Linked DNA regions of Homo sapiens. The protein of the gene in region 1 interacts with the protein of each later gene in a pairwise test. Each region holds a gene or a part of one and is shown in the gene's direction. Other genes may lie near its edges. The genes, in order: IGFN1, TRIM35, HOXD3 and DDAH2.

What was found.
Region 2: the proteins of IGFN1 (region 1) and TRIM35 interact in binary tests that used the Homo sapiens proteins (3 or more experiments, as listed by UniProt).
Region 3: the proteins of IGFN1 (region 1) and HOXD3 interact in binary tests that used the Homo sapiens proteins (3 or more experiments, as listed by UniProt).
Region 4: the proteins of IGFN1 (region 1) and DDAH2 interact in binary tests that used the Homo sapiens proteins (3 or more experiments, as listed by UniProt).

What each region holds. Positions count from the first base shown.
Region 1 is NC_000001.11:201,207,806-201,214,828, forward strand, and holds part of IGFN1 (immunoglobulin-like and fibronectin type III domain-containing protein 1), read left to right. Parts: coding exon 1-5,816; intron 5,817-6,371; coding exon 6,372-6,496; intron 6,497-7,023.
Region 2 is NC_000008.11:27,308,263-27,315,692, reverse strand, and holds the start of TRIM35 (E3 ubiquitin-protein ligase TRIM35), read left to right. Parts: upstream 1-4,420; 5' UTR 4,421-4,457; coding exon 4,458-4,892; intron 4,893-5,026; exon of another isoform or gene 5,027-5,187; intron 5,188-7,430. UniProt on the Homo sapiens protein: E3 ubiquitin-protein ligase that participates in multiple biological processes including cell death, glucose metabolism, and in particular, the innate immune response.
Region 3 is NC_000002.12:176,160,301-176,167,323, forward strand, and holds part of HOXD3 (homeobox protein Hox-D3), read left to right. Parts: intron 1-523; exon of another isoform or gene 524-780; intron 781-2,654; exon of another isoform or gene 2,655-2,853; intron 2,854-2,859; exon of another isoform or gene 2,860-3,772; 5' UTR 3,773-3,868; exon of another isoform or gene 3,869-5,495; intron 5,496-6,187; exon of another isoform or gene 6,188-7,023. UniProt on the Homo sapiens protein: Sequence-specific transcription factor which is part of a developmental regulatory system that provides cells with specific positional identities on the anterior-posterior axis.
Region 4 is NC_000006.12:31,726,540-31,733,181, reverse strand, and holds DDAH2 (putative hydrolase DDAH2), read left to right. Parts: upstream 1-3,882; 5' UTR 3,883-4,020; coding exon 4,021-4,317; intron 4,318-4,436; coding exon 4,437-4,536; intron 4,537-4,657; coding exon 4,658-4,731; intron 4,732-4,889; coding exon 4,890-5,009; intron 5,010-5,489; coding exon 5,490-5,639; intron 5,640-5,828; coding exon 5,829-5,945; 3' UTR 5,946-6,142; downstream 6,143-6,642. Other genes in the region: CLIC1 (chloride intracellular channel protein 1), read left to right, coding at 784-965, 2,179-2,340. UniProt on the Homo sapiens protein: Putative hydrolase with unknown substrate. Does not hydrolyze N(G),N(G)-dimethyl-L-arginine (ADMA) which acts as an inhibitor of NOS.

The sequences.
Region 1 (7,023 bases):
TGGTTATAGCTATGGCTCAGGGGTTCCAGGAGAAATGGGGTCCGGCCATGGTGCTGGTTGTAGAGTTTCCCCTAGGGCACCTGCGGGAGTGGAGTCTGAGGAAGGGGGTGGGTACAGGCATGGCTCCGGAGCGCCTGGGGGAGTGTGGTCTGGAAATGAAGATTCTGGCCCTGCAGGAGGAGGGTCTGGGAGAGTTGCCAGTCTTAAAAATGGCTCAGGTGGTCCTGATGGAGCACCCATGAATGACACCAGGAATTGGGCCTCTGCATGCCAGGCAGGCATGGACCCTAGGGGAGGGCACCATTCAGATGGTGGCCTAGGGAGTCCTGGGGTGACAGGGTCTGCGGGTAGAGGTGGTCTCAAGGCCCCTGGAGTAGTGGAGACTGTTGGGATGGGATGTGTGGAAGCAGAACCAGAGAGCTCTGGAAGAATAAGGCCTTGGGGTCAGACTGGAAATTATGGGGGCTTCAGAGCCTCAGAGGCCCTGGGGGCCTTTGGAGAAGGAGGCTATGAAGATGGCTCTGGGGGTCCAGGAGCCATGGGACCAGGGTCTCTGAGGGCAGGAAGCAAAGTGGGTGAGGGGGATGGGACAAGATGCCCTGGTGCTAAGGCCTCTGGAGCTGGAGCTGGTTATAGGGATGATACCAGGCACCCTGAGTCACTCGCACCTCACAATGGGGCCGCTTCTGGGAGCCAGTGGGCTTATGGGGCTGGCAATGTGCTGGGTTATGAGGATGGATCAGAACTTCCAGGGCCTCAGGGAACTGGGGTCAGAACAGCCTATGGAGAAAGGTCAAGGGGCCTTGGGCCTAGGAGTACAGGGCCAGGGGGTGAGGCAGGCTTTAGAGATGGTTCAGGAGGCCTCCAAGGAATGGGATCAGCAGATGGGCCAGGTTGTAGGAAGGGTATTGGGAGTTCTGGGGAAATGGGGTCAGTGGATAAGGAAGGTTATAAGAAAGATTTGGGGGCTCCTGAGAATATGGGTTCGGGGAGCAAGGCAGATTATAGGGATGGTGTAGGGGGTTCTGGGGCAATGGGGTCAATGGATGAAGCAGGTTATAGGAAAGATTTAGGGGCTCCTGAGGGAATAAGTTCAGGGAGCAAGGCAGATTATAGGGGTGGTTTACAGGATTCCAGGGAAGCGGGTTCAGGGAGCAAGGCAGATTATAGCGGTGGTTTAAAGGGTTCCAGGGAAATCGGGTCAATGGATGAAACAGATAATAGGAAAGATTTGGGGGTTCCTGAGGGAATGGGTGCAGGTTACAGGGCTGGTTTAAGGGGTCCTGGGGAGATGGGGTCACTGGATGAGTCAGGTCATAGGAATGGGATTGGAGGTTATGGGGAAATGGGGTCAGGTTATAGGGAGGATTTGGGGGCTCCTGAGGGAATGGGCACAGGGAGCAAGGCAGGTTATAGGGATGGCTTAAGGGGTTCTGGAGAAATGAGGTCAATGGATGAGGCAGGTTATAGGAAAAATTTGGGAGCTCCTGAGAGAATGGATTCAGGGAGCAAGGCAGGTTACAGGGGTGGTTTAAGGGGTTCTGGGGAAATGGGGTTAATTGAGGCAGGCTATAGGAAAGATTTGGGGGTTTCTGAGGGAGGGGGTTCAGGGAGCAAAGCAGGTTATAGGGGTGGCTTAGGTTCTGGGGAAATGGGGTCTGTGGATAAGGCAGGCTATAGGAAGGATTTGGGGGCTTCTGAGGCAATAGGTTCAGGGAGTAAGGCAGGTTTTACGGATGGTTTAGGAGGTTCTGAAGAAATGGGGTCAGTGAATAAGGCAGGTTATAGGAAGGATTTGGGGGCTCCTAAGGGAATGGGTTCAGGGAGTAAGGCAAGTTTTAGGGATGGTTTAGGAGGTTCTGGAGAAATGGGGTCAGTGAATGAAGCAGGTTATAGGAAGGACTTGGGGGTTCCTGAGGGAATAGGTTCAGGAAGTAAGGCAGGTTTTAGGGATGGTTTAGGGGGTTCTGAAGAAATGGGGTCAGTGAATAAGGCAGGTTATAGGAAGGATTTGGGGGCTCCTAAGGGAATAGGTTCAGGGAGCAAGGCAGGTTTTAGGGATGGTTTAGGGAGTTCTGGGGAAATGGGGTCAATGGATGAGGCAGGTTATAGGAAGAATTTGGGGGCTCCTGAGGGAATAGGTTCAGGGAGTAAGGCAGGTTTTAGGGATGGTTTAGGGAGTTCTGTAGAAATGGGGTCAGTGAATGAGGCAGGTTATAGGAAGGATTTGGGGGCTCCTGAGGGAATGGGTTCAGGGAGTAAGGCAGGTTTCAGGGATGGTTTAGGGGGTTCTGGAGAAATGGGGTCAGTGAATGAAGCAGGTTATAGGAAGGATTTGGGTGCTCCTAAGGGAATAGGTTCAGGGAGCAAGGCAGATTTTAGGGATGCTTTAGGGAGTTCTGGGGAAATGGGGTCAATGGATGAGGCAGGTTATAGGAAGGATTTGTGGGCTCCTGAGGGAATAGGTTCAGGAAGTAAGGCAGGTTTTAGGGATGGTTTAGGGAGTTCTGTAGAAATGGGGTCAGTGAATGAGGCAGGTTATAGGAAGGATTTGGGGGCTCCTGAGGGAATGGGTTCAGGGAGTAAGGCAGGTTTCAGGGATGGTTTAGGGGGTTCTGGAGAAATGGGGTCAGTGAATGAAGCAGGTTATAGGAAGGATTTGGGTGCTCCTAAGGGAATAGGTTCAGGGAGCAAGGCAGATTTTAGGGATGCTTTAGGGAGTTCTGGGGAAATGGGGTCAATGGATGAGGCAGGTTATAGGAAGGATTTGTGGGCTCCTGAGGGAATAGGTTCAGGAAGTAAGGCAGGTTTTAGGGATGGTTTAGGGAGTTCTGTAGAAATGGGGTCAGTGAATGAGGCAGGTTATAGGAAGGATTTGGGGGCTCCTGAGGGAATGGGTTCAGGGAGTAAGGAAGGTTTCAGGGATGGTTTAGGGGGTTCTGAAGAAATGGGGTCAGTGAATAAGGCAGGTTATAGGAAGGATTTGGGGGCTCCTAAGGGAATGGGTTCAGGGAGTAAGGAAGGTTTCAGGGATGGTTTAGGGGGTTCTGAGGAAATGGGGTCAATGGATGAGGCAGGTTATAGGAAGGATTTGGGGGCTCCTGAGGGAATAGGTTCAGGGAGTAAGGCAGGTTTCAGGGATGGTTTAGGGGGTTCTGAAGAAATGCGGTCAATGGATGAGGCAGGTTATAGGAAGGATTTGGGGGCTCCTGAGAGAATAGGTTCAGGAAGTAAGGCAGGTTTTAGGGATGGTTTAGGGAGTTCTGTAGAAATGGGGTCAGTGAATGAGGCAGGTTATAGGAAGGATTTAGGGGCTCCTAAGGGAATGGGTTCAGGGAGTAAGACAGGTTTCAGGGATGGTTTAGGGGGTTCTGAAGAAATGGAGTCAATGGATGAGGCAGGTTATAGGAAGGATTTGGGGGCTCCTGAGGGAATAGGTTCAGGAAGTAAGGCAGGTTTTAGGGATGGTTTAGGGAGTTCTACAGAAATGGGGTCAGTGAATGAGGCAGGTTATAGGAAGGATTTGGGGGCTCCTAAGGGAATGGGTTCAGAGAGTAAGGCAGGTTTTAGGGATGGTTTAGGGAGTTCTGGGGAAATGGGGTCAATGGATGAGGCAGGTTATAGGAAGGATTTGGGAGCTCCTGAGGGAATGGGTTCAGGGAGTAAGGCAGGTTTCAGGGATGGTTTAGGGGGTTCTGAAGAAATGGGGTCAGTGAATAAGGCAGGTTATAGGAAGGATTTGGGGGCTCCTAAGGGAATGGGTTCAGGGAGTAAGGCAGGTTTCAGGGATGGTTTAGGGAGTTCTGGGGAAATGGGGTCAATGGATGAGGCAGATTATAGGAAGGATTTGGGAGCTCCTGAGGAAATGGGTTCAGGCAGTTACACAGATTACAGGAATGGTTTAGGCAGTTCTGGAAAAATCAGTTCAGGGGATGAGGCAGGTTATAAGAATGTTTTAGGGGGTTCTGGGAGGAATCCATTAGGGAGCGAGGCAGGTTCTAGGGGTAGTTTGGAGGATTCTGGGTACATTTTGTCATGGAATGAGGCAGGTTCTAGGCAAGGCTTTGGGGGAACTAGTGGCATGGGGTCAGGGAGTGAGGTCAGTTATAGAGGAGGCTCAGGAGGATCTGGGGAAACGGGACCAGAGGGTAAGATGGGTTATGGAGATGGTTCAGGGAGGCTTGGAGTACCAGGCTCACTGGCTGGAATAGGACATGAGGCTGGACCCAGAGGCCATAAAGCCATGGGTCACAGGTCAGGATATTGGGTAGCATCAGAGGGTGACACGAACTCCAAGGATGGTCCAGAGCGAGCCAGGGAAACCAGGCTTGTGGATGGGGCAGGACCTGGGGTGGAACCTGGGATGGCTGGAATGCCAGGCACTGCAGGTGGCATGGCACACAGAGACAGCCTCAGGGGCACAGGGGTGCTGGGGTCTCAGGGAGGGCGACAGACTCTTTCAGATGAGCGAGGCTCCACCAAAGATCTTGGGGGCTATGGAACTTCAGGGATCCCTGAGGCCTCGGAGGCTGCTGGTGCCAAGGGAAAACCAGATGTCAAAGAATGGCAAGACAGTTCTGGGACTCCAGGGTCTTCTAGAGACAGAGGGGCTCCCAGGGTGAAGGATAGGTCTCCAGACCAAGCAGGGATAATGGGGGCTTCTGGGTTTCTTGATGGCAAGGGGGCAGTGGAAGGTGAGACCTGGGCAGGAATGGCTGCTCTAGGGTCTGGATATGAACGGGACATCTGGAAAGCAGGCCCAGGAATGACAGACAGGGGTAGAGTTGCTGGCCAGGGGGGGTTGGCATCTCAGGGAGGTGGGGACTCACTTTTGGGAGGCAGAAGGGTAGGCTCAGGGAGTTCAGTGGGGACAGGTCAGGATCTGGACAGCGGCTCTATGCCTGGGGGAAGGGGCAAGTCAACATCAGGGCCTGCTGATAGACAAGGGACGAGCAATGCTTGGGCTCCTGATTGGGAAAACCAGGGGTTTAGCCAAGGCAGCATAGATGCTGGGAAGCAGCCCGCAGGCTCCAGAGCTTCCGGTTCTCTGCAGGAGAAAGATGCCGCTTTTGGTGGGACCCATGAAGGGCCAGGGGGCTTTAAGGGTGGGGAGGGTGCACCAGGCCAAGAGGCGGCTGGTGGATGCCGAAGCCCATGGTCCCTGGATAGCAAAGGTTCAAGTCCTGGAAGGGGCAGTTCTGTTGATGCAGAGGACTCAGGTATCCTGGGCAAGGGGAATTCTACTGAGTGGGGGAATGCCCTCACCCCAAAACCTGGGGAGTCCGGACCTCAGGGAGCCTGGAATGGCTTAGATGGTCCCTTTGGCAGAAAAGCCTCTAGAGATAGGTCAGGAGGGACCCAGGACCTGAGCTCTCAGCGAGGCAAGGGACAGAGAGGAGGAAAGAGGTCCCTCGGGGAGCAGGGGTCCCTGGAGGCTGAGAATGGTGAGGTCCAGGGTCCTGGGGCCCTAAAGGAGGATGAAGGGCAGGGAGTGGAAGAGGCTGGGAGGTCAGGCAGGAGGCCTGGCTCACTCAGGAGCAGGTCTCAGGCACAGTCAGGGGCTGAGGTTGGAGGAGGAAAGAGAAGGGGAGCAGACGAGGCTGGAAGCATGGGGTGGCAGCCTATGGGAGAGAACTGGGGGTGCCTGGAGGAGATGCTGAATGAAGATCAGAGCCGGGAGCCCCCTGGTCACCTTGGTAGCAGGAGAAGTGGCAAAGACGGCAGGTTGGACATCTATGGAGAGAGGAGAGATGCTACCCGGAGTTCCACATCCAGATACAAGCCTGGCACTGGCAGTTTCTCCAAGGATGCCCAAGGTAGGTGCTTCTCTGCTGAGCTGGCTCCCATGGGCTAGAGACAGTGGGGAGCTCCCTGGCCACTGGGATGCTTGGGTCTGTCCCAGTTCTGCCTCCAGCCCCAGGAGTTTGTCCCTGCCAGTGCTCCCCATTCTCAGGAATCTTTTGCAAATTTAGGAAGCAACCTCTTCCTCTTTACGCAGATGGGGTCCAGCCTGTGAGAGGCTCAGAGGTCTCCTAGGTATCTGCTCTTGAAACCTTATGTCCACAGCACCAGAGTTGTTGACCCAACTCTCTGTGGGTTACCAGACTTCTCACCTGTGGCGGGGGGGCCCTTCATATACCTTACACCCCAGGTCTCCTGGACCAGCCTAGGTCCTGCTGAGAAAAGCAGCAATGCTTGGGCTCCTGTCTGGGAAGACCAGGGCATTGGAGCCAAGATAGCATAGGTGCTGGGAACCAGCCCTGCTGACACCAGCCAAGCCCAGTTGGCAGGACCATGGTGGCCTTGCGGGGCACAGCGCAGGCCATGGCCTGGGGCGCTCGGCCCTGGGGATTCCCTCTGTGTCTCTCCAGGCCCCATGGGCCACTTCTCCCAGGGCCTGGCTGACATGGAAGTGCAGCCGGGGGAGGCCGCCACACTCTCCTGTACCCTCACCAGTGACCTGGGACCTGGCACCTGGTTTAAGGATGGCGTCAAGGTACTGCCTCCCCTCACACCTTCTCTTTACCAGTGGGAGGGACAGAGGTAAAGCAGAGAGGGGCAAGAGCGTAGAGGCTTTGAAAGAAAGATTTTTCATTCTTCATTTTGCTAATGTATCCACCTCAGGAGAAGTTTAAATAGCCAATAACTTGGTGTGTTTAAAATAAAATTGGATTTTTAAATGATGTGTATCCTATGCCCCTCAGCATACCCCTTGTTCTTCCACCATCCAAAATGCCTCTTCTATACCCATACCTGCTGAATCCTACCCATCCTTCAAGGCCTCGTACAAATGCCATCGTCTCATCCCAACCAGAAGGGGGCCCTCGTCTCCCTGCACAATCCTCTGTCCTCCATTAAAGCTGTCACCCCAAGAGACATCACAGTGACTCAGGGCATGGGGCTCAGTATCAGCTAAGTCTGGCTTCAGATCCCAGCTCTGCCACTACCAGTTATAAGACTTCAAGCAAGCTGGCAAACAGTCTGGCTTCCTCATCTATAAAGTGGGACAAATAATAGTACTTA
Region 2 (7,430 bases), on another chromosome or scaffold:
TTCTACTCTTCCTTCTTGTTTTTGATTTGTGGCCCCATTCAGAATATGAGAAAAAAAAAAGACCCAACAAAATAAGGAAGATCAGGTAAGAACAGAATGAAACACATAGACAGCAACACATATCGATTCACAACACAACTGGGACACAGAGATAAGAGAACACAGTGAAAGAGAATGAGACGACGTAAGAGTCTCTGCGTTGGGGGGAGGGGAGAGGGCTATCTGGAGTGTAGCGTTGTTAGCCCCATCTTGTGGCTTTTTTGGATATTGCCTCTAAGGTTAATTTTTGAACCACTAACCAACCATAGCTGGAGACCCAACAACTTGTTGGGTGAATAGATCTAGGATAATTGCTTTCAAACTTTCTTGCACCTCAGAATCACCTAGCATGCAAGTGAAAATGAAGATTCCTGGGCCTCACTTTCCACAAGAGAGATGAGTAGATTAAAGTGGGCCCAGGAAACTGCTTTTAGAAAACTCCCCAGGTAATTGCAGGAGAACCATGAACCACATTTAAGAAACACTGAAGGCAATTAGAGTTAGTGGTATTCATCCCTTGTCATTGTGAGGAAAGGACTATGCTGAGGAAAAGTGTGGAAAGAAATTATTAAGAACTTTAAAGGTCTGAGATTTTACCCTACTTGCAAGCTAATGTGTGGGCCAAGGGAAAACGTCTCCTTTGCCCCTTGAAGTTTCACTGCAAATCACTGACAAAAAGGTTAAGAAGAGGAAAGGGATAGAAGTTTATTTATTTTTTTGAGACAGGGTCTGGCTCTGTCACCTGGGCTGGAGTGCACTGGCACAATCTCGACTCACTGCCACCTCCCGGATTCAAGCGATTCTCCCACCTCAGCCTCCAGAGTAGCTGGGACTGTTAATGGTGGAGGGTGTCCAGGTTATTGGCATCTTGAACAAAGAATTGGAAAAAACGCACAAACTAAGCAGGGAAGGCATGAAGGGTTTTATGGAAAATGAAAGTAAACTCCACAGTGTGGGAACCGGCCTGAGATAGGGGCTCAAAGGCCCCATTACAGAACTTTTGGGGGTTTAAATACCCTCTGGAGGACTCCATTGGTTACCTGGGGTACGCCCTATGTAAATGGAGAGGATGAAGTAAAGTTACAAAGTTATTTACTTGGCCTACGCCCTATGGGGAGGATATTTGCTGTCGCAGCTGAAGTGTGAATTGGCCTTATGTTCCCTGCCTCCAGACCCTATTTTCCTGCCTCAGGCTATAGGCGCACACCACCACACGCGCCCGTTGTATTTTTTGTAGAGACGGGGTTTTGCTATGTTGCCCAGGCTGGTTTTGAACTTGTGAGCTCAAGGCCTTCTTCGACCTCCCAAAGTGCTGGGGTTACAGGTGTGAGCCACCACTGGCACCTGGCCCGATCCGCCATGCCTGGCCTGATCATAGTTTTATGTGACATGGGAGCCTTCAGAATGAAGACCTAAAGATAGACTGGAAATGGCTCATTTTCATGCTTAGGTTCAGCAAAGTATGAGTAGCTGTGTAGAAATATGATTGAACAAAAGGGTATGAGCTAATGTTAATAAACTGAGTGGGGAACCTAGGCCTGTCTGTCTAGATTTTTCTTGGCCTCTACGAACATGCATTTCTTCCTTCCAGGTATGTTACAGGTAGTTAGACAGGCATGAGCAGGGCAGGAGAGGACTCTACCCTCCCCAATCCCCTCAAGCAAGAATGCCAGGTGATGGTTTCACAGTTATCACACTGCCTTTCTAAAATGGATAATTTGGCAGATGGGCCAGAGAGAGGGAGAGAGACAATTCCCTGATGGTCCACAGCTGTCACTAAAGTGTTACTTGATGTTAATTGATATTAAAGCAGGTGCCAGGCATAGGCAATTTCCCAAACAGATAAAAACACTTGAGATTGGTAATCAGCTTCCAATAAAATTTCAGAAATTGGGTGAGTGAGCTTGGGCATGCACATTAAGAGACAAAATAGTGGAGTATGACCTTCCGGGGGCATTCCACTGGAAAAGGGAAGAAAGCCTCAGATGGGCATGTGTACAAATTCCTAAGCACATGGTGCATGCTCACCTCCCAAGCATAGGGAGGGCACTGTGCATTCGGGCAGCTCACACTGAGGGAAGAATGAAGGGAGAGGGCAGCAAGACTCCAGAAGTGGGCCAGCATATGAAGTCCCAGGATCAGGGTTAAATGCCACACTTGTCCCTCAAGTTGCCCGCTTGGGTCTCTTCCAAGTGTACTTTCTTTTCTGTCCCAAACTTTTTAATAAACTTCCACTCTTGCTCTGAAACTTGCCTCAGTTGCTTTTTCTGCCTTATGCCCTGTATTAGTCCATTTTCACATTGCTATAAAGAACTGCCTTAGACTGACTGGGTAATTTATAAAGGAAAGAGGTTTAATTGACTCACAGTTCCGCATGGCTGGCGAGGCCTCAGAAAACTTACAATCACAGTGGAAGGTGAAGGTGAAGCAAGACACCTCCTTTGCAAGGCTGCAGGAAGGAGAATGAACACAGGAGGAATTACCAAACACTTATAAAACCATCAGATCTCGTGAGAACTCACTCACTATCAGGAGAACAGCATGGGGGGAAAACCACCCCTGTGATTCAATTACCTCCACCTGGTCTCTCCCTTGACACGTGGGAATTATGGGGATTACAATTCAAGATGAGATTTGGGGTGGGGACACAGCCAAACCATATCATGCCCCTCAGTCTAATTCTTTCTTCCAAGGAGGCAAGAATTGAGGTTGCTGCAGACCCATACAGATTCACTGCTGTTAACTCAGACACCTTCTACCCCTAACAGGTATGGGGTAGGACCCTCTCTGGAATCGGGCTCTTATGGCCTACAGTCAAACAAGGTAGGTCAGATAATTTCTTTATGGCCAGTTATTCCACAGAAAGGCAGAGAGAAAGAGTAATATTTTAAGGTTTCAAGACTGGCTTTAGGAAAAAGGGGTTCTGGTTTCTATGACCTGCCTTGGGGAAAAGGAATTCTAATTTCTATGGCTATCCTTGGGGGACTGAGAGATAGGAGGGCAGAGAAAAATTTCTGCTTTTGAGGCCATTTTGGGGTATTGTTTTCTGAGTTTCAACACTAACAAGTTTGCATGCCAAAATTTCATGAATACTGCTAAAAGATGAAACTCCTGGGTCAGAGACAAAGGATAATACTAACAGCAATAATAGTAGTCACAGTATTGTCATTGGGCCAGTTTCTGAGCCCTAATTCTTGCAAGACTATGTGATGAAGGCTACAGTAGGTTGCATTACAGGAGAGGGGCCCCAAGTTTAGGAAACTCACATCTCTTATAATTGGGAATAAGTCTGCCAGATCTTTGGAGAGACAAGAATTCTGTCTTCCAGGGCTATTCAATGCAGAAACATCCTTGAAAAGATAGTTGGAAAAAGGCAGTCAGTGCCTCTGCTCTCTCAAGACATGCAGGAACATGACACATGTGAATTGTCTCCCAATAGAAAAGGAATGAAAGTGCATCGTGTGAAAAGTATTCTGCATCTGGAGGCTGTAAAGTGATCAAACTGAAGCAGGAATGAAGATCTGAAGGAACCATCCAGGCCTACTGTACCTGGCAAGAATTGAGCATGAACTCTAGTTATCTCAGCTAAACTTTGCAGAAGTCCTCAATTTCACTGTTTTAATGGGCACTTGCCCATTAAAACAGTGGTTGTCATGAGCACTTTCCACATTTATTTCACTTTATCCTCACACTTCATGGAAACAGAGCTATTACAGCCATTGTACTCATGAGTAAATGGACTTTGAAACATGATGACCTGTTCACTTTTTCAACCACAGGACAAGAATCAGGTTTTCTCGGAGCTCTTCTGCCGCCACCCCTCTCTTGTTTCTCCTTACCGCGGCGGGCCAGAAGAAGACTGGCCAAAATAAGTAAACGACTAATGCAAGAGTGGCATAGGTCCTCAAAAAGGCGCTGCAAACTTAAGTGGTGATTGCACTCACGGTGCTTTAAGACCCAGCCACTACTTCGGAAGCAGGAAGTTGGCATCTCTGGTTTCTCCCATCCGCGGGCCTGAGGTTCCCGGGGATTGGTTAAGGTAGAGGCTCCTTTTCCCATTTGCAGCCGGAAGTAGGTTTCCAGTAACACGGAAGCCCTACTACGCCGCCTGGGAGACCCTTCCGTGCTACCCCGGCCAGGGACCCGCCCGGACCTGAGGAGGCGGGAACTGCGGGCAGAAGGCCCACCCCGCTCTCCCAAGATTTCCCGCGCACACCGGAAGTGGGTGGGGCTCCTCCGAGCGCCCCCTCCCTCCCCCTCGCCATCCCCCCCGCACGATTGGCCAGCGCCGCTGTCTCTCAGCGTTCCAGGGGAAGGGACTGGGCGATTCCCAGCACTCGGGTCGCGGGCGTTGGCAGCCGGGCGGGTGGGAGGGGCCGGAGCAAAAGTTCCGGGCGCCCGAGCCGGCTGCTCGTGCCATGGAGCGGAGTCCCGACGTGTCCCCCGGGCCTTCCCGCTCCTTCAAGGAGGAGTTGCTCTGCGCCGTCTGCTACGACCCCTTCCGCGACGCAGTCACTCTGCGCTGCGGCCACAACTTCTGCCGCGGGTGCGTGAGCCGCTGCTGGGAGGTGCAGGTGTCGCCCACCTGCCCAGTGTGCAAAGACCGCGCGTCACCCGCCGACCTGCGCACCAACCACACCCTCAACAACCTGGTGGAGAAGCTGCTGCGCGAGGAGGCCGAGGGCGCGCGCTGGACCAGCTACCGCTTCTCGCGTGTCTGCCGCCTGCACCGCGGACAGCTCAGCCTCTTCTGCCTCGAGGACAAGGAGCTGCTGTGCTGCTCCTGCCAGGCCGACCCCCGACACCAGGGGCACCGCGTGCAGCCGGTGAAGGACACTGCCCACGACTTTCGGGTAAGAGCAGCGATTTGCACGAGGCGGCCGAGCCGGGTCTGGAACCCGGAATCCCTTGGCTCTGCGGCTCCCGCCCCTCCTGCCTGCCAGAGCCCAGTGTGCCCGCGTCTCGCTCCCAGCATGCAGGACCCCACCTCTCCGACCCAGGTTCTCAGGGCTGGCTGCTTCTTCAAGGTCGGCCCAGGGGCCCGTGCTGGGAGAAGAGAATGCGAACGGAAAGTGACAGATGAGGTTACATGATGTTCCCAAGACAGCGACACTTGCTTCTGAAGGGCCCAGGCCATGCACCCCTTGTGCCAGCCGGGTGTGGCCCAGGTCCCTTTAAGCGGCACGGATGTGGGTGCAGCCCACGAGCCCTGTAGCTTGGCACACTCAATTTAGAAGTGGAGGAGGAGCCACAGACCTGGCCAGGGGTGTGGAGTCTTAAGATTTCCCCCAAACCAGTCACCTACTTGCCAAGCTGATCCCGCGGTTTGTATTATCTGAGTGAGAGGTCTCTGACCCTGGCTGGCTGGCCTATTCTGGTTTATAAAGCAGCATCTCCATATCTAGAGTTCTAGTGACTATACATAAACCCAGGAGCAACTTACAGGGCAAAACTAACATGGAGAATTCTTTGATATAGGAAGGAAAAATGAATAGAAGATAAGGGTTAGCCTAACTCAGCATTTTCCAAAACGTTTAATCTTAGCCCATAGGAAGCAATGCATTTTCCCTTGTGACCCAGAACATATGTATCAGTTGAAACAAAAGTTTTCTGAACATGTCCATGGCACTCTGATATTTTCTGTTACTTCCCTTTGTTTTTTTTTTTTTTTGAGACCTCTATCGCCCAGGTTAGAGTGCAGTGGCGTGCTCTTAGCTCACTGCAACCTCCGCCTCCTGGGTTCAAGCGATTCTGGTGCCTCAGCCTCCCGAGTAGCTGAGATTACAGGCATGTACCAACACGCCTGGCTAATTTTTTTTTTTTTTTAATTTCTAGTAGAGGCAGGGTTTCACCATGTTGGCCAGGCTGGTCTGGAACTCCTGGCCTCAAGTGATCTGCCCTCCTCTGCCTCCCAAACTACTGGGATTACAGGCGTGAGCCACTCCGCCTGGCCTCTGTTACTTTTAAAAATTACCCAGAATGTGAAACATTGAATTTATTTCATCACCTGCTAATGCATGAGTCAGAGCCCCAATTGGGAGAACACTGGGTAGCTGGCCCGAAGCTGCATGGACTGGAGAGGAGGAGCTGCCCGAGTCCCCTGTGCCTGGTTTCTGGCCCCCTCTGTGGCCCTGCCTTCTTTTTTTGCAATACCTTTTTAAATACGGAAGTCTGTTCCGCTCCAAATGCATTTGACAAAGTTTAATTGAAGGGGAATGTAAGGATGCTGTCAGTACGCATGTCTCAATGAGTAACCCTGTTACTCCTGTCATCTTTTTTGTTTAACATGGGTCCATGTCAATGCTTTTCCTGTTTCCACTGGCAGAAGTGACAGATCCTGATTTGGGACAGCTGGAATAAGTGCTGGCCAGCCAGGGGTCTGGGGCCCAGGTAAAGGAGGGATCATGGTTCAGGTCATGACTGATGCCTATTTGGCTGGCCGAGGTGCTGATCAGGAGATGCTGGGGTCAGGGCTGAGAACACCCAGGCAGAGCCCCCAGGCTGGGGCCAAGCCAGGATTCAAGAGCAGAGAGCCATGCACCAGCAGATGCCTGGTACTGCAAGGTCCCAGGGATACTGCAGGAGACAAGATAGACCATTTCCAGCCTCAAGGAGCTTCCAGCAGAGACCCGAGGGAAGAGGAGGTGTTAGCCAGGTGAAAGAGGGTATTTCAGATAGAGGCAGCAGCATTTGGAAGGGTCCAGAAGTGGGAAAGCCTGACTTTCTAGGCACTGAGGGAATTTAAGGGTAGTTAGAATGAGGAGGGACGTGCAGGAGGATCCAGGAGGCCGGTGGCTCACCCTTGCTGTGAACAGCAGCTGGGGGTTTTAGCAGAAGAATGATGGTGTCAAGTCAGTGGACACTCAGGATGATGTCAGGGGCTGAGTAGTCTAGTCCCAAATGGATCTGAGAAGAATGAGAGCCAGGTGTGGTCAGCCTGATGCAGGGTGCAAATCACTCATTTACTAGACAAATGGGTACTGATGGCTGTTGTGTGCTGTGGCCTCTTCTTAGCTTCATGGAATTCTCATTTGAGCAGGGGGCATAGACAGTCAATAGACAAGATGTAGTTCTGTGTGATTCAAGGTAGGTGGTTGTGGGGGAGCGGTATGGGAAGATTCCCTCCACCACTTGGTAAGAAGGGACTGGGTAAGAAGCTGTGTGCCTCACTGAGGGGGTTTTCCGTTTTGTGCTGTGGGGAGCTCTGAAAGATTCTAAACAGGGGAGTTTGTGATGGGATGTGTGTTTTAGAGAAAGATTACTTTGCCAACTATCTATGTGAGGAACAGCAAAGTCAAAATCATCCCAGCTAACACATTTCAGTGCTCACTGTGTGCTAGATGCTTTTCAGTGTTCACACGTCAACAAATTTAATGCTCACAAAAACGTAT
Region 3 (7,023 bases), on another chromosome or scaffold:
CTAAAATTTCCAGCTCCCGGACCAGTCTGGCGGAAGGCCCAGCCAGGGTCAGAGGTCGTTGTGGGGAGAGACTCTCAACGCCCCCAACCCACTGAGGGCGGCCAGGCCAAGACTGAGTCGGCCCGGAGCTGCGAAAATGTGTTCTTTCCTTCCGCCCCACACCCATCCGCGTCTGCCCCAGGAATGGGGCCCAGGTCCCAAGCCTCCTGCGCCCTTCCTTCCAGCCCCCAGGCTTGGCTGCGCTCCGGGACTGGGTGGCGTGAAAGTTTCAGCCTCAATCAGTACAAGCTTCCCTCGGGGTCACGTGAACAAATATGCTTGCATTTGAAGGCAGCGTCTGTATTTCCCGACTATGAGGGGGTTTCCGGGGCTCTCTCCAAATCCAGAAACGACCACGTTCCGCAAGCAAAACAAATCCCAAGCTCTGGGGGGCCTGGGAGGGCTGGGCAGAAACCCAGGAGTGGGTGGGGGCGCGGGTGGCTGCCGCTCTGGGCCCGAGAGCGGACGGGCGGGCGGGTGGACCGATGGGCGCGCAGCGCAGGCGAAGCCAGCTCGGGGACTACGAACTCGTTCCTCCTGCGTTTATTGGTAGTTGAACCTCAGCCTGGTTCCGTTCTACCGGGAATTCCGTGTGCTCGAGTATATGGCCGTGTCTGCGAGCGCGCAAGACCAGGGTTGGGACAGTGTTGTCTGCAGACAAAGGGGGAAGGCTAGCTCTGCCCCCCACTGGCGCCCACTCTGAGGCCGAGGACACCAGGTTTATGATAAATTGGGATCCAGGTAAGCAATTGCATGACAAAATGGAAATCTTTGGGCACGGGGCTGCTTGCCGCCCTGAGCGGGATATTAAATATGATTTATTTTGTGTAATCTGTGATCTTGATTATTGCCAATTGGTGAGGCAGCCCGCGTAGACCTAGATACACTGCTACATATACATGGAGGACGGTGATTAATCGTAACAAGGCGCGCTTTGTGGGGACGTTCCCCGCCTACCAAAGGGTTAGGAGGACACTACCTTGCCAGGCTTGGAGGGTGGCCGGCAGCATTGGGGGTGGTAGTAGCAGTTTAAGGAGGGGATCTGGTGAGGGGATTGAGTGCTGGAGGAAATATTTGGGGGCTAAATGTGCACTTAGGAGAATGGGCTGAAAAAGAAATTAAAACTTTTTTACACTTTACTGCCAAAGTAAGATGGAGCGTCATATTAATTCTGTGTCTTGAGCTGCCGGGCTGGGTGCAGGCGGGTTGATTTATATGTATTTAAAATAAACTCGGTGGTCAGCCAGCTCCCTGCATTGTTCCGGTAGCGAGCTCCACACACAGCCTTTACCTCTTGCTGTTGGCTTAATTTTTTCTTGGGAGATTAAAACGCTACTGAGCTTTTCCTCCCAAAATTTGAGAGAACCTCCAAACTACCCAGAAGAGTTTGGGAGGTTCCTCCACATTTCCCTTTACCAATCCAGGCTTTTGATTGCCGTAGTGGCAGAGAAAAGGTTTAGTGTTTCTAGGTCCTTCTCCCCAAAGAACCCTGAATGAAAGCTAAATCATATATTGGTTCACGAATCCCATCTCTCCTTTTGTTTACTTGCTCCCTGTGGCTACTGGCTGGGAGAGGAGAAGACAACCCATCCCGGGTCTTTCCGTGCCAGGGATGGAGTGAGCAGCTCCAGGAGCTCCAGTGAGTGGTTCCATGCTCGTGGTAATGCCACTGGGCCAGACCCAACCGGACCTTTATGGGGAAAGAACCTCAAAAGCAAGGAGCATTCCCTTAGCTTAGGTTGGGACAGGCCCTAGCAGGAGAGGAACCGACTTCCAGGGGCTTCGCCATCATAAGAGAGCAGTAAAGTTGTTTTGTCAATCTCCTGCGCTTGGCTTCATCAGAACTGAAAGTCGCTGGACATTTTTCTTTGCTAGCTGCCTTGAAGCTGCGCGCCTGCCAGCTTAGTCAGCTGAATCCAATTACCGCGAGTAGCATTTCATTTGGCCCCATGGAGCATTCACTTATAACTTCCCCCGAAAATTTCAATAATCCCTACCAAGGCTCCACGCTGGCCCTATCCTAAAGAGTTTTCCTAGGGTGCTGCTGAGGGATGAGGTGTAGGGTTGGGGCTGCCTGGACTCAGCTCTTCCTTGACAGCTCACGGACGCAGCTCCTTCCTGCTCTTCCCGTTTTTGGCTCCAGAAAGAGCACCAGTGCTGGTGGTCCAAAGCCAGCCCGGTTAAGGCTGAGAATCTGGGCAAACAAGGAGCCAAAGTTGGACCCGCGTGGGATGGTGGGTGGGCAGGGTAGGGAGCGTGGGAGAAGGTGCTGAAGGCTTTTCTGGTGGTCCAACTTTGGTTAACTTGGGGTCCTCTTTCCTTTCTTCTTCCCAAGCCTCTTACGCCAAGAGCTCAAAGCGCACCGCGCACCCCGGAACCCCCAGGCGCAAACTTACCCTGTTCCTCCGCGGCTGGAAAAAGAAAAATCTAGCTAGAGGCATAAGGGGGTGGCGGCCCCGGGTGACCTCCCAACTTAGCTCTTCTTTTGAGGGGATGCTCCTACTTCTAAAGAACTCTTTTTTAAAAATAAATAAATAAAAAATAATCAAGCGGCGAAAGTTGACGTCCGCCCACGTGAATGTATTATATAAAGCAGCTACAGGACCAGCTGGCTTGAGAGCCCTGGTACCTCGGGCCTCCACCGCACCACCCTCAGGTCCCGGCCCAGCCAAGAGCGCTTGGGGGAGGGGGGCGGGCAAGTGGCTTTTCCCCCTGGGTCCAGGCCGGCTGGGAAGCTGAAGCCGCAGCGCGAAGTTAGGAGCCCTACCGGGCTGGGATCTCTTCGAGGCGCTTCTGTTGGGTGTTCATTAAGGGGTGAGTTATTGCGGTGCGAGCCAAAGGTCACTTCAAAGGCTTATGGCTGCGCGCTTTAGTCTTTAGAAGCGCCGGGAACGCTTTGTGTGAGGCTTTCCCGGGTGTAGTTTAGTGCTCGCAAACTACTGAGTCGACAAATTGCACAGGGCAGATGCAAGAGGGGGACTCTGTCTCTCTCCTTTCACCTGACGGGGGGTGGTCACCCGCTGAGCGGTGACAGTGGTGGGGGAGCTTGGTCTGTGGCTTTGGGTGGGGGTGGAAAGGATGTTTGTTTCTTAGGCGATTTGCAGTCTGATCCTGACCCAGAAGTGGGCAGCCCAGGGCCAAGAGTGTGGTGGATACTTACCGGAATGAATAAACTCAGGGAAAGCATCTGATATATTTAATGTATAAATCAGGAACTAGCGCCCAGGTCCTCTTCACTGAGGCTCTGTAGAGCAGCCCCTGACCAAGATCCACCCAAGCCTATTTACCTTCCTTTCCTGGTGCCCTTTTCTGCAGCCTCCCCTGCCAAACCCCCACCTTAATTCTGCACGGTCTCTCTCTTCTGCCCCTAGGAGAGTGTTTGGCTTCCGGGATTGGGACCTGGAGGAGCATTTAGAATTTGGTAGGGGCAGGAGGAGAGCAGATTGGCTTCCCTGCACCTCTGACCCACCTGGCTAGAGGGTCTGGCGCTTCCCTCACGTCCGGGCTCTCCCCTCCCCCATCCAGCCATGGATTTTGGCGTTAAAGGGGCCCTCGCTCCCCAGGAGCCAACTGAGTCTGTGTTTTGCCGGGGAGAAGGCGTCTGGATGGTCACGGGTACCATATACAATAGTCACATTGACTATGACGTCCTTCAAGTGGGAAAAGCCCTTCAACATGTAAGTGTTTGTAAGCAAGAACCGGCTGCTACTGAGAGTTTTCCATTTTGTTCCAGATTCGCCTCCACAGATATCAAAAGAAACCTGAAGAGCCTACAAAAAAAAAAGAGATAAAGACAAAATTCAAGAAAACACACACATACATAATTGTGGTGAGTGGGCATCATTTAAATAATAATTTCCAGTACATTTCCCTCTGCAACTCAAGGTGGCCATCTCAAAATTCATACATCAAGACATAGAACAAAGGGCAGCTTTGAAGTGGGTCACTTCAGTATGAAGTACCACCCGTTACATGAAAACCGATCATTGGCCTTCAAATTTATGGCGCTTTAATGGGGCAAGCCCAGTGCCTTAAATACAGGGTGCATTACAGTATTGAGTTATCTGGGCTAAATAAGAGTGATTTAGAAGGCGCGTCCAGGTCTTCTTATAGAGCAAAAGAGGCTCAAGCTTAGAGATCGGGAGAACTTGGGCGGAACGTAAAGAAGTCTCCTTTCGAGCAAACCCAAAAACCAGTGGTTTCGAATCCCGAAGTAGCAAAGCCAACAGGAAAGGGAGAATCGTTGCTCGGTTCCAGTGAATTCGTGGGGATGCTCAGCAAAAGTCTTGGCCGCCAGAAAGAGATCCGTGGGCTTCTGACCCTGGTTTAGGCAAAACAGGGGGAGGCGCCGAGACCAGCTCGAGCACTAGCGGATTTTGAGAGAAACTGACCGCAACCTCCATCGCCTTCCCCCTCTCTTTCAACTTGGATGGGCTGACTCTACCCGTCGGTGATTTACGACGATTGCAGCGCTAGTCACAGCCTGGCGCCTGGTGTCCCCTCCCTTCCCAAGCCCCCTCAGCTTTTCCACTGCCACCGGCGTACAAGCAAGTGCCGAGCCGGCCTCCGCAAGTCGGACTAGCCTCCCGGCGTCCGAGGCCACCACGGGCAGCAGATTTTTGGTCCCCAGCGAGGCTGCGCGCGTTCGTCCCGCCTCCGACCGCCGAGCAGAGCTGCTAGCAGAAGCAGGCGCCGGTCACTTTATATAATCCTGCTGCTCGCAGGGTGCAAGAGCGGGAAAAGTGCGGAGTAGGGAATTCTTTTGCTGCGCTGCCTCCTACGCGGAGCCTGCTTTCCACTGCTGAAAAGTGCCGGGCCTTGGGAAGTGTTTTTCTTTTCATTCCTTACCGAAGCGTTTACTGCCGCCGTGGTCGCAGTCATAAATTTTGCTACAAACCACAATGACAGGTGCATTGATATGCACCGTGAGAGCTCCAGCTGCTTAATAACCCCGTCCCCTGGTCGCTGTGAGCGCCTTTTATTTATTTGGTATCATATTAGGTATTGATCTCTAGTAGCATTAAGTGCGGTGAGCAAGTATCAGGGTTCGGCTGCTTTGGAGGCGCAGCGGTTGCGGCGGGCCGGCGGGCCCGGGGAAGCGGGCGGTGGCCGCTCAGAGAATACCTTCCTTCCGGCAGGAGACCGTTTGGCCCTGTATTCCGGGCCTGCGGTTGGGCCTCCAAGCTGAGTTGGGCAACTTCCCAGCACCGCAAGAAAGGGCGAGCCAGACCTATTTGGCACCCCTTTCCCAGGAGGAGCAGGGGATGGCGCCGGCGGAGTTTGGGGAGGCTGCCCTGGCCAGTTCCCCGGGCTAGAGGGTGGAGGAGAGGAGGAGGGAGAGGAAAGGGCAGCTGAGGACTTGGAAGAAATGAGAAGCCGTGCTCGACCACCCCTCCCCCAACACTGGCTCATCTTCACCCCAAGACATTTGGGTCTTGGAGCCCAAATGAGCAAAGGTACCAAAGGGCGAGAAAAGAAAGGCTTTAAAAAAAGGGTGAGGGGGTGATCGAAAAGATGAGCCACTGAACAGTTGACCATTGTCCAAGTGATTTATGACCCGTTCCTGCTTTTTAGGTTCAAGCAGAGTTCACAAGGAGTAGGGATTTCTGAAAAGAAATAAGCCTTTTTACCAGTTTTGTAACTATATTCTCAGGTTTTGTTTTAAGAGGGATCACTTTTGGGAAACTGCATTTTTGGGGGACTGCAAAGCCATTTCCAGTAAGGACAGCACCATCACTGGCTCTTGCTTTTGGGGAAATGGACATTAAGGTAGTGGATTGTCATTGAGTGGGAAATTTCTTGAGACAATGTAAACAGTTAGGAAAACAGACTCTGGTTTTTCAGGAAGATGCCCAATGTTTGTACTTTTGAGGTCTGTACACAGAACTTTTTCTAGGAATATGCCATAGAAGCAAATATATATATAAAGCCATCTGTCCCAGAAGAACTGGTCAGTTCCTAAGTAAGCTATTTTAACGTGACTGGTTCACCTATCTAGATCAACTTTGTCAACTTGGGAGGCAGGAGGGTGAATGTTTTGCTTCCACAGTTGTAAATGGAATGACAGAGCAGCAGCAAGTTCTGGTAGTCTGAGTGTCCGATGTGACCATTAGGCCTCCAGAGGGTTAAGACTGAAAGCAGGATACCAGAAAAGCCTGAAACATAACCAAATCCAGAGTGCCTCTTTCTTCAGCAGGGGGCAAACATATGTAAGTATTAGTCACAGAATGAAGACTTAGCTGTCCATTTGATATCCAGTAACTTTTAACAGAGAATGATATATAAAATTAATCAAAAGAAAAATTAAGTCCAGCTTTGTTAAGTAGATATCCTACCTACATACATTTAAGAACAATAATGGAAACAATTTCTACAACATAGTATCTTGGTATTAAGGGCCTGTTCCTCATCAAGACAAATGGCATACTCACTTATATTCTAAAACAAGACAAAACAAAAAGGGCAACAACACTACCTACCAAAGACTAATTAGAAGAATTTTAAAATTTGGGTTAGGCTGTTTGGTGCAGGTGGAGGGAAAACTAGTGAATCATTCTGGTACCTGTGGTCAAATCCATTAGGCCACATAAGCTGTCTAGATGATGTGGTACATCATGATGACCAGGATGGAAGCCAGGGAGAGTTTCTAGGAAGGAAAGTTGCCTGAAAGACAGATCAAGAATTGAGACCAGGGAGCTGACCTATGAGTTTTCTTTATCAAACAGACAAAGTGATTGAATGGTATTAGTTATACTTTAACTCTTTAGGAGCCTTTCAGAAGAAGTAGGGAGGCAGGGAGAGAAGGGAAACCCCCATAAAGAAGGGAATACAAAAGGGGTAGGATTTTTCTTAGCTTTTTTTTCTTCTTCTAATTCTGGGTCCATTCATCATGTCATGAAAGGTTCTCTCATTGGTTGTGGTTTGGGTGGGAGGTAGGGTAGAATAGATTATCCAGAGCAGATGTCAATAATATCTATTTATACA
Region 4 (6,642 bases), on another chromosome or scaffold:
AAAATTAGGATGACAATACCTATTTCATGGGTTGATATAAATTTTTTTTTTTCTTTTTTTTTGAGATGGAGTCTCGTTCTGTCGCCCAGGCTGGAGTGCAGTGGTGCAATCAGCTCACTGCAACCTCTGCCTGCCGGGTTCAAGCAATTCTCCTGCCTCAGCCTCCTGAGTAGCTGGGATTACAGACGTGCATCACCACGCCCAGCTAATTTTTGTATTTTTAGTAGAGACAGGGTTTCACCATGTTGGCCAGGCTGGTCTTGAACTCCCGACCTCAGGTGATCCACCTGCCTCGGCCTCCCAAAGTGCTGGGATTACAGGAGTGAGCCACTGCACCCGGCGATATAAATGAGTTTGTAAAATGTAAAGTGTTCACTTTGGGAGGCCGAGGCTAGCGCACCACCTGAGGTTAGGAGTTGGAGACCAGCCTGGCCAACATGACTGGTCTCTACTGAAAAAAATACAAAAATTAGCCAGTTGTGGTGGCAGGCACCTGTAATCCCAGCTACTCAGGAGGCTGAGGCAGGAGAATCATTTGAATCTAGGAGGCAGAGGTTGCAGTGAGCCGGGATCATGCCACTGCACTCCAGCCTGGGCAACGGAGCAAGACTCCGTCTAACATAAAATAAAATGTAAAGTGCTTAGAATAACACATAGAAAAGTAACTACATGAGTGTTAGCTATTATTATTTTGGACTCACCATTAGTATCCACCCCCAACGGGCCTTTTCGGACTATGTCAATCTTTTCCTGAAGTTCTAATCAGTTCCCTCTCTTGCACAGATCTGGAGAAGGGACTCCTGAAAGCCCTGAAGGTTTTAGACAATTACTTAACATCCCCCCTCCCAGAAGAAGTGGATGAAACCAGTGCTGAAGATGAAGGTGTCTCTCAGAGGAAGTTTTTGGATGGCAACGAGCTCACCCTGGCTGACTGCAACCTGTTGCCAAAGTTACACATAGTACAGGTGTGTGGTTATTGCGGGAGGAGAGGATGACCACTGGAGTGGCCCTTTAAGGAGCTCCCACATGGGCTTCCCCTGACAACCACTCTAAAGACGATTTCTTTCTTAGGGTGGTTTTCATAAATTGCTACCAATGGCAGACCCCACCCCAGTCCTTTGCAGCAGTCATTGCTAACAAGACCACTGCTTGAGATAATTATATTCCATGATGTAAGTCATGGGTGCAAACAGACTAGCAAAGAGGAATACATCCCAGTATTACTTTTGAAGAATGCTCTTCCTGTCTCGGTATCACTGCCAAATTCCCAGATTAGACAGAGCAGGCTTTTCCTAAAGTCAAAGCTTTAACTTTCTTTATAACTTCAGTCTTCACTTCCTCTTGTGGAAGATCAAAACTGCTGGTTCCCATGTTTTTGTCATAGTCTCAAAGCTATGGTTTAGTTTGTGCAACATGGGCCTGACATCAGTCTGCCACACAACTATGTAGTGAACATCTGTGTACTAAGCATTGAAAGATACACAAGTGTATGGTGACTGGGCCTTGCTCTCAAAGGGTTGAAATCTGAGACAATAAAATATTCACATGAAAGTTAAGAATATATGATGAAAAGTCAGATGGGCCGGGCGTGGTGGCTCACGCCTATAATCCCAACACTTTGGGCGGCCAAGGCTGGTGGACCACCTGAGGTTAGGAGTTCGAGACCAGCCTGGCCAACATGGTGAAACCCCATCTCTACTAAAATTACAAAAATTAGCCGCACATGGTGGTGGGCACCTGTAATCACAGCTATTTGGGAGGCTGAGGCAGGAGAATCACTTGAACCCGGGAGGCGGAGGTTGCAGTGAGCCAAGATCGCGCCATTGCACTCCAGCCTGGGTGACAGCAAGACTCCATCTCAAAAAAAAAAAAGTCTGATGAAAAATATAGAGACAAAAGTCACCTGTGTCAGTGCCTGAAGTGGTATAGGGGGAAAAAGTCACTGTGGAAATTCAAGAGGAGAATTTTATAAGTAAATTATATCTCAAGTTTTAAAAACTCAGGAAAAATGGCTGGTTATTAAAAGCCAGGATTTCAGTAAGTGAGAAGGAAGGCTAACGACAGTACAAGACAGTGAGGAGTTGAGCTGGTTTTATCATGTCGGCCTGGGGAGAAGGGAAAGCCAAGGTGGCTTCCCTGGGTCTAACATGTTGGTCCCTCTCCTCTCCCCATCCTCAGGTGGTGTGTAAGAAGTACCGGGGATTCACCATCCCCGAGGCCTTCCGGGGAGTGCATCGGTACTTGAGCAATGCCTACGCCCGGGAAGAATTCGCTTCCACCTGTCCAGATGATGAGGAGATCGAGCTCGCCTATGAGCAAGTGGCAAAGGCCCTCAAATAAGCCCCTCCTGGGACTCCCTCAACCCCCTCCATTTTCTCCACAAAGGCCCTGGTGGTTTCCACATTGCTACCCAATGGACACACTCCAAAATGGCCAGTGGGCAGGGAATCCTGGAGCACTTGTTCCGGGATGGTGTGGTGGAAGAGGGGATGAGGGAAAGAAATGGGGGGCCTGGGTCAGATTTTTATTGTGGGGTGGGATGAGTAGGACAACATATTTCAGTAATAAAATACAGAATAAAAATCAAGTGTTTTTACGCAATGGGGATTTAAAGTGTGGGCGACATGGAATGAGGGGTGGGTCAGTGATCTTGAGCTCAGGGCAGAAGCCAGGAATTAAGAAGGGAAATGTTTGTGGTGGGGCTGCTATGTTTCGTGCCGGTCCGCCGGTCCGCCGTTGCGCTGTTCTGAGGTCTACGAAGCGTTTGCAGCCCCGTCGCCAGGGCCGGCCAGATCTGGGTGGGCCTGGGCAGCGCTCGCTGGGCGGTGCCGATTTCTGGCAAGGGGGGCGCAGTCTGGATGTAATGGGCGAGGCTTAGCAGGGCGGAATGGGCGTGGCCCGAAGAAGCCCCGCCCCGTCCCGCTTAGACAATGCCCCGGAGCCGCCAGACCGTCGCGCCCCTGCCCCATCGTAGTATATGAGCTCGCCTACACAAGGACCCGCGCTAAAAGCCAGAGCTCCCAGTCCCCGAGGCTTGAAGACGGGGACTCCCTTCTCCACCAACTCTGTCCTCGGGGGGTGGGGCCCCAGCCGAGATCACAGCGCGACAGGAGTGGGGGTGGCCGCTGGAGGTGAGTCTTGCGTGGGGGGCCCTGAACCGTGTGGGGGCCGGAGTTTGGGGGTGCCGGGCCCATGCCTGCACCAGACAGAGAGTATGGGGAGCCGGTATTTGGGCGCGGAGCTAGGCGGGGTGGACTTTGGGACATAGACGGGGAACCGGGTCCTGGAGCCGGGAGTAGTGCCAGCGCCCCGGAACCACGCCCCCTGTTACCCCGCCCCTCGCATTTCGTTTTAGACCTCTCCCAGTCCTTCGGGACTCGGTCTGGTTTATACTAGGTCGCGCTAGGGGCAGCGTGACCAGCCAGGGCGGAGAGAGGATGCTTAACTCCTTAGGCTCGAACTCCTCCCTTCCTACCCACCTCTCTCCCTTCTCGTTCGGGTATTCAGGACTTCCATTCCCCAGCCCCTGCCTCTCCAGCTTTCTCCTTCTGTCCCATAACCCCTGCGGGTCGCGGGCTGGACTTCCAGTCCCTGCGGTAGCGAGCAGCTGAGGGTTAAGGGGGCGGGGCTGCTGCATTTTTGGGGAGTGAGCGCATCCTAGTGGCTGCCAAGAGGGGCGCCCGACAGGGACCTCACAAGCCCCCAAGCAGGGGCAACAGGTGTTTTGGAGATTAGAGACCCTAGCCTTGTTCCTCAGGCTCCTCTTAAAGAATCTGACCCCTGAGGGTGCTGGGTAGAGTGAGGTCGACAGGAGCGGAAGGTCTGGAGTGGGTGGGGCGGAGTGGGAGGGACGCCTAGAGATGGCAGGAGGAAGACCTGGGCGCTCTTAACCACCCCCAACGCCCTTGTCTGCATGTCTTTTTCTCTGTCTCCTCCTTTTCTGTTTCTTCTCCCAGACAGGTGAAGAAACAAGAAAACTAAGAAATCCGAGCGGTTGGAGGGGGAGTCTGTGTGGATGGGATGGGGACGCCGGGGGAGGGGCTGGGCCGCTGCTCCCATGCCCTGATCCGGGGAGTCCCAGAGAGCCTGGCGTCGGGGGAAGGTGCGGGGGCTGGCCTTCCCGCTCTGGATCTGGCCAAAGCTCAAAGGGAGCACGGGGTGCTGGGAGGTAAACTGAGGCAACGACTGGGGCTACAGCTGCTAGAACTGCCACCTGAGGAGTCATTGCCGCTGGGACCGCTGCTTGGCGACACGGCCGTGATCCAAGGGGACACGGCCCTAATCACGCGGCCCTGGAGCCCCGCTCGTAGGCCAGAGGTGAGCGCCGTGGCGCGGGTGTGGTATGGGGAAAGGCAGAAGGAACTGGATGTCGGGGCTTTGGGGAAGAATTGAGGATGGGGGTGTCACAGCTCCGTGCCCTCTTCTCCTATCCTAAGGTCGATGGAGTCCGCAAAGCCCTGCAAGACCTGGGGCTCCGAATTGTGGAAATAGGAGACGAGAACGCGACGCTGGATGGCACTGACGTTCTCTTCACCGGTGAGGCTGGGGGGAGGCATAGGTCTTGGCACAGGGAAGTAGAGTTTGGGAGACTCGGCCGTCTGGAGCCTTGTTTCTAACTCACTCCCGCCCTCAAACCTCCGCGGCCTCCCGGACTCAGGCCGGGAGTTTTTCGTAGGCCTCTCCAAATGGACCAATCACCGAGGAGCTGAGATCGTGGCGGACACGTTCCGGGTGCGGAGCGGGACCAGCCTAGGGAGGGAGGGGGTGCAGGTGGGGGTCGGAAGGGCCTGGGCGCCCGCTGAGGAAATGAGAGGCAGAGAGCAGCCTATGTTTGAAGATACCCCATCACCCCTCCCGCGCCCCTGAATACCTCCCTTCGCTCTCCCTAGGACTTCGCCGTCTCCACTGTGCCAGTCTCGGGTCCCTCCCACCTGCGCGGTCTCTGCGGCATGGGGGGACCTCGCACTGTTGTGGCAGGCAGCAGCGACGCTGCCCAAAAGGCTGTCCGGGTGAGGAGGGGGCGGGGCCAACGAAAGTGGGCGCAGTTCTGGGCCCGGGAGGCCGGGAGCTGGGAGGCTTAGGAAATTAGCCCTAACCCCTGCCCTCAATGGGCTGTCCATCTTACATGAAAGAACACAGGAGAAAATAAGAAGTTACAACAGCAGGACTGGGAACAGGGGTGATTAATTTGCTCTTCCGGAGTTTCAGGAAACCCCAAAGGTGGCACCTAAACTGTGACTCTAAGGATGGGTAGGACAGATAGGAGGGGCTGGGGAAGGTAGGGGGTTGAAAATAACTGCATGTGATTCCAAGGTGGAAATTAGCAAAGGTAACTAAAGTACTTAGTGTCTGACATATCGTAAGCTCTATGTGCTTGCTGTCATTATTTTCCACAAATGTCAGTCCGTCCCCAGCCCTTAGTGGTGGTTGAGCAGGCAGACACAGCTGTGGAGAGGTTCTGAGACTCGAACACTTCCTCTTTCCTCTAGGCAATGGCAGTGCTGACAGATCACCCATATGCCTCCCTGACCCTCCCAGATGACGCAGCTGCTGACTGTCTCTTTCTTCGTCCTGGGTTGCCTGGTGTGCCCCCTTTCCTCCTGCACCGTGGAGGTGGGGATCTGCCCAACAGCCAGGAGGTGAGAGAGGGCAGGAACTCCAACACCAAGCACCATCAGAGAAAAGAGTTTCAGGCTTTCCTAGTGGGAGGAAGGAAGGGTACCTTCTCTAGAAGCCTGGGTGGGGCCACTCTGAGCTGGCTGGAAGAGTGGCCTGGCTCAGCCTGAGGTCTCACTCCCCTCTCCCCACTCCATGTCTTCCCTGTGCAGGCACTGCAGAAGCTCTCTGATGTCACCCTGGTACCTGTGTCCTGCTCAGAACTGGAGAAGGCTGGCGCCGGGCTCAGCTCCCTCTGCTTGGTGCTCAGCACACGCCCCCACAGCTGAGGGCCTGGCCTTGGGGTACTGCTGGCCAGGGGTAGGATAGTATAGGAAGTAGAAGGGGAAGGAGGGTTAGATAGAGAATGCTGAATAGGCAGTAGTTGGGAGAGAGCCTCAATATTGGGGGAGGGGAGAGTGTAGGGAAAAGGATCCACTGGGTGAATCCTCCCTCTCAGAACCAATAAAATAGAATTGACCTTTTAGACTGGGCTGTGACTGGTGTCTTACTGGGGCAAAGGGATAGGGCAGGGCTGAAACCTGAGTTTGGGGTCAGTGCAGGGAAGAAGGCCTCTTATTCAAAAATCTTGTTAGGTACTTATCAACTCATTGCCCAACCATGTCATAGGTACTTGAGCACAAGATGAACAAGACAGAATTTCTATCATGGGAAGTGTGTCCAGGGCAGAGAAAAGAGTGTATGGGTGGATTGCTCACTGAATTTATCTAAATGTTAGATGATTCAGAGACTGGTAGATTACCAGTCCACCCCTATTTGATAAAGAAAAAGAAATGACACTTCCAGGGACATTCATTTTCATTCATTCATTTAATGAGGCTTAGCAATGATATCAAAAGGGTCAGTCTCCTGACGTTGGGGAGCTCACAGTACATGCAAATTTCTTACAAATTGAAATACAGGTTGTCATGGAACAATTTACAGAAGGCTGTTTCTATGAGGGAAATAAAGGGGGTGCGCCCTAGG